Linked DNA regions of Homo sapiens. The protein of the gene in region 1 purifies or fractionates together with the protein of each later gene. This does not show direct contact. Each region holds a gene or a part of one and is shown on either strand. Other genes may lie near its edges.

The links. Proteins that work in one complex are often made in the same cells at the same time.
Region 2: the proteins of VPS4B (region 1) and ZNF585B fractionate together in Homo sapiens (co-fractionation; one large-scale study listed by BioGRID). This does not show direct contact.
Region 3: the proteins of VPS4B (region 1) and VPS13A fractionate together in Homo sapiens (co-fractionation; one large-scale study listed by BioGRID). This does not show direct contact.

The regions. Positions count from the first base shown.
Region 1 is NC_000018.10:63,394,977-63,398,476, forward strand, and holds part of VPS4B (vacuolar protein sorting-associated protein 4B), read right to left. Parts: intron 2,278-3,500; coding exon 2,058-2,277; intron 1-2,057.
Region 2 is NC_000019.10:37,181,079-37,183,807, reverse strand, and holds the end of ZNF585B (zinc finger protein 585B), read left to right. Parts: 3' UTR 1-2,229; downstream 2,230-2,729.
Region 3 is NC_000009.12:77,418,534-77,422,037, reverse strand, and holds the end of VPS13A (intermembrane lipid transfer protein VPS13A), read right to left. Parts: 3' UTR 501-3,504; downstream 1-500. UniProt on the Homo sapiens protein: Mediates the transfer of lipids between membranes at organelle contact sites. Binds phospholipids. Required for the formation or stabilization of ER-mitochondria contact sites which enable transfer of lipids between the ER and mitochondria.

The DNA.
Region 1 (3,500 bases):
AGAAATAAAATACTAGTAAATGCAAAAAATAAACAGGGAATCTTCTTCTTGTTAACTGAAATAATCAGCTTTAAAAGAAGTAAAGGATGGAGCCGCTGAGAGGTCTGCTGCAGCTGGTGATCCCCAGCTGCAGAGATAAAACTCATCTGGCTGTGTCACCTTCATCCCACTAACAAGGACCTGGCTTCAGCGTCATGTGAGCTCACCCTGGCAGTAATATGCAGAATTGAGTGACAAACTCTCAGTAGGAAAGGACTGAGTTCCTATGCATTTATAGTTTCTAAATGGCAAAGAGAATTTAAGAAAAAACATAATGGCTGTGGCATAAACTTAACAGTACTTCAGTAATGAAATGGCTGAAGAAGGGTGGATGAGTAACATTCCCTACGCATCTGAAGTACCACGACTGGTGTTTTATGAGTATTATATCACTTCATTATTGGAAAGGACTTCAAAATAGCATTATCACATCCCCATTTTAGAAATGATAAAAATGAGCTTTAAAGAAGTAATAGAATTTGCTCAAAAAGGTATAACAAGTAAATGGTGCCAGGCTTCAAATTCAGATTTTAATTCAAGCTTGTTAACTTAAAAAAATCTTATTATGGTACATGATAAATATACGTATGTGACTTAGTCATATTAGTCTTGACATACATTATGAGATTAGGTTTGCTAATAGTTTTTCACATGTATGTTCATGAGTAATACTGGATACTGTTGTTCACAGCAAAAGGGTTGGTCCAGATTACCTAGTTCATTGTTACTCAAACTGGGTATCTCAAGACCACAGCCTTCTTATAAAACTTTATCTCAGCCACAGATGCTTAACTTGTTCTTGCAGACAAAACAGAACACAGGAGGGGCAGGATAGCAGAATGGCTGAGATTTCAGATTTGGAAACACACCTCACCTCCAGGCAAATCACATGTCTGTCCCACTCTAGCTACTGTGTTAGCACCTACGTCCAAGACTAACCACCATTAGGTGGCTGGCTACATGTACCTCTCTTGCTGATTTTTGTGAAGACCAAATGAAATAGTAAGATAAAAGACAGAACACAGTGCCAGGCATGTGAATATTTAAAAGATATTAGCTATTATTATTTTTACTTTATGAGGTATAAATGCACCAGATTCTACTCAAAAATATTCTAGATGTGTCAGAAGCAGCCTTACATCTGTACATTTAAGTTTCTATACTTATATCAAAATAATACACAAATACTTCAAAAATCATTTCATAGGAAAATTTAAAACACATTAGGATGATTAATAAGGCCTTTTCTTTTTTTAAGACAGGGTCTCACTGTGTCACCCAGGCTGGAGTACACTGGTGCAATCTCGGCTCACTGCAACCTCCACCTCCTGGGCTCAAGAGATTCTCCCACTTCAGCCTCCCAAGTAGCTGGGACTACAGGAGTGTGCCACCACATCCAGCTAATTTTTGTATTTTTTACAGAGATGGGGTTTTGCCATGTTGCCTGAGGCTGGTCTCTCCTGAGCTCAAGAGATCTGCCCACCTCGGCCTCCTAAAGTGCTGGGATTACAGGTATGGGGCACTGCACCCAGCCAAAAATGGCCAATAAATAAACTTTATTAAAGAACTTGTTTCAGTGACACAGAAATATGTCTATTATGTAAACCCACTTATGGTATTATTATACAACACTGAAATCCTCCCAAATTCTTTGAAGACAAACCAATGACGGTCTTGAAACTTGATTTTAAAAATACAGGAAAAGGGCCAGGCGCAGTGGCTCACGCCTTTGGGAGGCCGAGGTGGGTGGATCACCTGGAGTCAGGAGTTCGAGACCAGCCTGGCCAACATGGTGAAATCCTGTCTCTACTAAAAATACAAAAAATTAGCCAGGCGTGGTGGCACACGCCTGTAATTCCAGCTACTCAGGAGGCTAAGGCATGAGAATTGCTTGAACCCGGGAGGCGGAGGTTGCAGCAAGCCCAGATAGTGCCACTGCACTCCAGCCTGGGCAACAGAGTGAGACTGTCTCAAAAAAAAAAAAAAAAGATAGGAAAGGATAGATAAAAATGACTTACCTTTTTAAAATGAGTAGCTGACTGTACTTTCCTAACAGGCTGCATAAGGGCATCACGTACAATGATACTTATATCTGCCCCTGAATAACCATCTGTTTTCCTCCCAAGTTCCCGAAAGTCTGCTTCCGTGAGACTGTTCTGAGTGGTCCCTAGGTGCAGTTTAAACATTGCTGCTCGGGCATGGGGTTCCGGCAAGGGAATATAAATTCGTTTCTCAAATCTTAAAAGAGAAATTACATCAAGAATATATTTAATTGAAAATTAGGATATTTCCAAGAAGAAACAGATACTAAGTTAAGTGGGCCTGTATGTGCCAAGGTTAAACATATATATTTAGGTTAAAGGGATAATATCCAGAACACATTAAAAACAAACAAATAAAATCAAAATAGCCTGGGAGCCAGTTTGAAGTGGCTGAATCTTTCGTGCATTTTTGGGTTATTTTGGCCACAGTGTTCCTATGTCTGGAATTCATGAAATAAAAAGAGGTCCTACAGGGTTACAGTTTCCCACAAAATTGTACTCTGAACTCTTGATCAAGGGACTAATGATTAACAATATAAAACAGGAGTAGAGATGACACAGTAATTCTCTACATTCAAAACAGAATTACCTCACAATCTTATAGGATATATATTACACAAAATGTCCACTTTAATGAATACATCCAGAACAATCCTATATTATAAAGAATAAACACTATGTTTCATTAACAATAATTTTGCTTGCTTTCTTAGAATTTCGGTATTTGGAGACAGAGAAGCAACGATGAGGGATAATTTAAGTGGTCTGAGCAGACTGTTTTTTCTCCAGGTAACTCTCTGTGACAATGAAAAGAATTTAAAGTTTCCGTTGCCTCTAGAGATGGGTGCAGAATAAGGCAATTTTTCAAAAATACCCTGCACATTTCCTTTCTTGGTACTGGATGGTAAGCTAGAATGCTGGCGCAAATCATCAAGTGAATGGGATAAAAGTGGCAAAAACTGAAGTGCTAATTTTTACCATACAAAATAAATGAATGTAATACAGAACTGTGAAGAGTGAAAAGTGAAGAGTCCGTATACCTTTCCTAGAACTGAAGTTTCATTTTCAACTTAAAAATTAGATAGATAGATGTGTGTGTGTATACATATATACATATACACATATACATATATACACACACACACACATATATATATATATATATATTTTTTTTTGAGATGGAGTCTCACTCTGTTGCCCAAGCTGGAGTGCAGTGGCACAATCTTGGCTCACTGCAACCTCCGCCTCCTGGGCTCAAGCGATTCTCCCACCTCAGCTTCCCGAGTAGCTGGGACTACAGACAGGTGTGCGCCACCATGGCCAGGTAATTTTTTTGGATTTTAGTAGAGACAGGGTTTCACCACGTTGCCCAGGGTGGTTTTGAACTCCTGAGCTCAGGCAATCTGCCTACCTTGGTTT
Region 2 (2,729 bases), on another chromosome or scaffold:
AAATTGATAACTCATATGAAAACCAACCCCACCATATGTTCACTGTCTACTTGTGTCCATCTTCGTCCCACGCACCCCACAAGGACCTTCCCCGCCATGTGCCTCAAACATCAGTTCCTGACTCAGGGCCTTTGTATTTGCAGTGCCCGTTGCAAAGAGCACAATTCTTTATTTTATCTGTGGCTTGTCCGTCATGTCTTTTTTTCCATGACACCTCCACACAGGCCTTCCCTGCCTGCCTGGTTTAAAATTCCAGCCCCTTACCCTTCCTCCTTTATTCTTCTCCCTAGCAATTTCCACCATGCTGCCTGGTGTATTTTCCTCATTTCTCTGTGGCTTCTACACTAGAAAATATTTCCCTTTTGTTCACCACTATGAGTCTAGACCCATGACTGCCATACAGCAGGCATTCCATAAATGCACCTGTGGAGAGTTGACCCATGCTTGTTGCGTGACTTCTGTCTGATTTTTTTCTGTGTTGCAGCATAAGAAGCGCTAATAGGGAGAACCAACTTGGCTAAAACACACCAGGCTTTTTCACCTCTAGTCTGTACCTGGGCTGTATCCCTTCTCAACCCTAAAGCTAAAAAGTCATTGTGAACCTTTTGGTCTGATGCTAAAGAAGGGAAAACAGGTACAGGAAATCCCATGTGGATGCTTGCTTCCAGGATTTCCTGCCATGATTCCAGAATCCCACAGCTCCAACATGATTGCAAAAGACTCCCTGCTCATTTTTCCTCAGCATGCACAGCGCTGTCCTGTCTCAGTTGCAACTCGACAGAGCCGCATTTACTCCAGAACCCAATCCACACACCTGCTCATCCTGCCCCGAGAGGAGTGCCTGAAGCCAATAGCAGGGAACTAGAGCAGACTTGGGTGGATCTTCATTGGATATTAGGTATCTTGCCCTAGATAGGCAGCAGTGGCCTTACAGATGCTGACAGATGATCTGATTAGATGCACAGTTGCTGGGTGGCGTCTGGGGCCAGTCTATTGGCAGTTCTGGGAGTGGGAACTATTTGGGCTCTGCAAAGATGGTTTCACCTTTAAGAAGGGCAGTATGGGGAGGTGAAGATGGGGCCCAAAGGATAGAACATAGTCAAAGAAGCAGGGCCACAATGCCCCTTTAATTCCCAAGCCCTAGTTGGGCAGTGCTTGGTGACACATCCCATTACCTCACCTTAGATCAATGTCTACTGAGCCATCATTAGCTCTGCTTCCTCACTTCTTCACAGTATCTGATGGCCCATCACATGCTGCTCAACATCTTAGACCAATGTCTGCTCACCCATTACCTCCCTTCACCTCATCCAGCACTGTATCTGAAGCTTCACTATTCTTCCTTCAGTTTTGGATATTTTGTGATACAACATTATCCCCAACTTAGGACAATGTCAGCTGACTCTCAGGAGGGTGCCTGGAGATCACCTCTTCCTTCCTAACATACCCTAGAACAAGGTCTGGTCCCCTTCATTATTCCCATTTTACCTTACTCCTAAGTGTATCACTCCTCATGAATTCCAGGAAATATGGAGGAAAACACATTTCACTGTACATGACTTTCAATAATTTCTCCTTTATATTTATTGTAACGTGATATTTTAGTGCTGACATATATATGTATATGTATGCCCATTTATATAAAAGACTAGTTTTTAGAGAAATTTTAGGTTCACAGCAAAATGGGGCAGAAGGTACAGAGATTTCCCATATATCCCCTACCCTCACATATACACAGCCTCCCCCATCATCAACATCCCCCTTCAGAGTGGTACATTTGTTACAATTGATGAAACTACATTGACACTATCGGCCAAAGTCCATGGTTTAATTAGGGTTCAGTCTTGATGTGCATTCTGTGGGTTGAGACAAATGAATAATGACATGTATGCATTATTACAGAAGGATAAAGAGCCGTTTCACTGTCCCAATAATCCTCTGTGTTTCGCCTACTCCTCTAAACTCCTGGCTATTTTCTTTTGTCTCCATAATTTTGCCTCTGAACCATAAAGTATGCAGCCTTTTCAGATTGATTTGTTTCACTTAGTAATGTGGATTTAAGTTTCTTCCATGTCTTTTCGTAGCTTGCTAGCTCTTTTTTTTTTTTTTTTCTCATTGAATAATATGCTATTGTCTGGAAGTACCATGACTTATTTATCCATTCACCTACTGAAGGACACCTTAATTGCTTCCAAGTTTTGTTGATTATGAATAAAGATGCTATAAACACCTGTGTGCAGGTTTTTGTGTGAACATGACTGTAATATTTTAAGGTCGTATTTATTGAGGTATAATTTACATACAGTAATATTCACCCTTTTTAGTGTGGAATTCTCAAAGTTTTGACAATTACATCATGCAGTCAATACCACAGTCAAGACAGAGAACAGTTCCCTCACTTCCCTACATTTCCTCCTATTACTTTTTAGTCCATCCCTTTGCCCACCCCCAGGCCTTGATGATCACAAGCCCATTTTCTGTCTGTATAATTTTGCCTTTTCCACATGTTGTATAAATGGAGACATCCTGTGTGTGTCTCTGTCTGTTTATATATGTGTATGTATCTCTCTTTTTGAGTCGGACTTGTTTCATTTAATGTGATGTATTTGCGATCTATCCATATTGTTATATGAGATAAAAATGGAAAATAAGGTGATGAAAAGATGCTCGACATCTTTAATTTTCAAGAAAATGAAAATGAAAACCACAATGAGATACCTGTACACACC
Region 3 (3,504 bases), on another chromosome or scaffold:
ATGCGGAGTTTTCTAAGGTTAAGAGACAGAATGTCGGTGGTTAAGAATTCACTAGGTCGAGACAATCCTGGCCAACATGGTGAAACCCCATCTCTACTAAAAAAAAAAAAATACAAAAATTAGCTGGGCGTGGTGGCACACACCTGTAGTCCCAGCGACTCGGGAGGCTGAGGCAGGAAGATCACTTGAACCTGGGAGGTGAACGTTGCAGTGAGCCGAGATCGTGCCACTGCACTGCAGCCTGGTGACAGAGCAATACTGTCTGTCTCAAAAAAAAAAAAAAAAAGAGAATTTACTAGGTACTATACCACCCCAAGCTTTTAGTCAGCAATGATCATGCTGGGCTGGAATGTCGCCTGCTTTGACTGAAAAATCAGGACCTTGGGCAATCTGTTATTCACATTTGTTTCAGCCCCAAAGAGGGTGGAATTTATATAGGCAAGGGAAGGGTATTAATAATGTTTCTAGTTCTATCAAAAAACTAAAAACAGAAGCAGACCAAAGATCAGAAATCTTTATTTGACAAAGGTATACATGGTGAAAATGGGCAGTCATCTTACCATGCAATCCAAATCTACCAATACCAAGAAATGCTTATTGTTAAGAAAAAAAATCATTAGTGAGCATGGCCAACCAATTTTTAGAGAGAGGAATAAAAGAATAAGATTAGTTTCAAAAGGAAGAACTTCACTGTAAATATCTGTGTTTATAAATTATCTTAGAATACACAAAACCAAGGCAGAGGCTGTGTAACAGGCAACTGAGCCAAGCACACATAAAAGAGGGATGAGGAACAGAAAAGTGTAGGAAATCCTGCAGCGATGCAGAAATAGATATTTTTAAAATTATCATAATCAATGACCGTATTTTCATCAAAGAAAGAATAAGCATTCCAAAGCAGCACAGGCTATTTCATCAATTTAAAAAACTAGCAAGAGAAAGTATTTTTAAAGTGCACTTTTCCTGAAAAATTCATTTTTATATGTAATACACAGTCACATACAGAGATAATTATTTCTAAAATTCTGTAACAGTTTATCTGACCTTGTAACAAGTTCCAGATACCATTCCTAATAGTTTGTGTGGATATTAAATCATTGATACTGAAAATATTTCAGTGTAATCTATGCTACATTTTTACTTGAATGTTTTTCAGCCTAAGAACTGGGAACTTTTGAGTAACAAACTGAACACCGGAGGTATGACGGCATAACAGGAAATGTTGGGATTTTCCAACATGTTCTATTTTAATTATACTTCTGATTATTTGATATCTCATTATACCAATCTCACAGGGTTTCTTGTTACAAGGACTTCATTAGAAGGAATACATTATTAACATATCAGAGTAACACTAAATGAATAGTTCAATGACAGACAGGGATTTTCTATCATAGCAGTGTGATATCTATCATCATAGCAGGTGTTAAACTATAATATAAATTAATTTGTATTTGTATAAAGTAATAAAAACTTTAAAAATATACCCATATCAACCTAAAAAATTGAAGTTATATTTCTTGTATAGCTTTTTGGGTAACCAAAATAATTTTTTTTTTGAAAATGCCATAATGCTTTAAAAAAAGAACTAATCTGTAATTCTAAAGTAAAAAATTTTTTAAATGACATGGAAAAATTTACAAAAGAGGAAATATAAAGTAGAAAAAGGTTTCAATAAAAGAAACATGAGTGAGGTTTGTAATAGAGTAGGATTCTGCATCTTCTCAATGTGCTGGCCTTGCTTTTTGGATAGTCCTGAAACAAATACTACTTTAGACCAATTATGACAGTGGGAGAAAAGTTTGCTGTAACAGCCAGAGTGGCCAAAAATTGACAGTACAGATTACAAGAATCAAAATTTTAACCGACAAATCCTAGCTTGATTAGGTTGCCATTAACAATAAGGTATAATTTCAAAAGTATACTTCAAAGGACTAAGGAGGGTGAATGGGTTTCCTTTTAGAGTTGCGCTATACTGAAAAGCACCAAAAAAAATCAGATTGACTAAGTCTGTATTGAGTCCTGCATACAGAATGTAAGTTATTTACATTTTCTACTTGGATCTTAAAGAAATGAGGAAATCCACTGTTTTTAGTAAAAAGTCATTGATATTTGCATAGCACCCCCCAGACACTGAATATTTTGGCCCTACCAGAATGTGCCCTACGTATTAGCTCCCCATTTTTAAAGGCCTTTGCCACCTGTATGGTGAATCAGCCAAAAGGTAGATGGTGCAGATTCAACGGACTCAAAAGGACAATGTATGTCCCCAGTTCTATTATAGTAAAATGCTTAGTGGTAAAGAGGTTAAAATACATCTAGGTAAACAAAAGACTATGGCCTTTTTTGGGTGCTGTGTGTGGATCTAATTTTTCTATGCTTTTTCTGGTCCCACTGAATCATGTGAGGTTGCCCGATACACAGCAGAGAAGAAAAATATTTTAGAAACCAAGAGTGATTCCATCTTCTCACTCAAAAGAAGAAGTGCTAAGCATCTCTAGACTTCCTGAGTTGTGGATCTGCTGCTCCTTATCTAAGGTCAGGCTCCACACAATCCAGACTCTTCCAACAATCACTGGATGGCCGGTGCCTCCTGCAGCAGTCTTTCAAGCTTTCTTTTTTTAAATTGCATTTCATAACAGGAAACACTTTATATTGTGACCCAGTATACACAGTAAATAGAATATTTAGCTGAAACAGTATTTCAGGAACCAATACTTAACCATTTTATATGCTCTATTGTTCCTCTATTTTTTATTATTTCACGTTTAAAATATACTGGTCTTGAGCTGTTAAGTTGATTTCATGACCCACTAATGAGTTAGGACTTACAGTGTGGAAAAACAGCATCCCTGAGGATTTGGGTTGATCCTGACAAAAGGTAACAAGCAATGCCCTGGAAGCCGAAAAGATTCCTCTGAACTGTGTTGGCTGAGCCATGAAAGCATCCACTGTCAATGTATTTGGTACACACTTTGAGCTTCTACAGGCAAACTAATCAAGTATTTTGTCCCAATCTTTTTAATACAGAGGCCTACATGAGGGGGCACTTGGCATAGCCTGAAGGATCAACTAATACTGGCAAGTGATAACTGAATAATTTAGGTGCAGGAAATTCAGCACTGTGTAGAGTCCTTTTAATTTAATCTTTCTTTTTACCAGAGAGTAATACGATGCTACTATGTGGGATGTTTCTAAGAGATGAGCTAGGTGCATAGATATTCAATGGAACAATATTACCGCTATTACTATTGGAAGAAATGAGAGAGATAATTATGATAGAAAATATCACGTAAGTAAGTGTAAGAAAGATTTATTCACTTGGAGGCCACAGGATAGTTGCCTCCAAATGGACTAGGATTGTGGAGGAGAGGGGTAGGTAAGAACTGTCTACAGGTGGTAATGATTGTTTAGGGTCCAGATAACAACAACTCAGCCACACTAAACTGACCTTGGGATTTTTGTGAACACTAAAGGAAAAGCAGCAAATATGTATACTCTAAA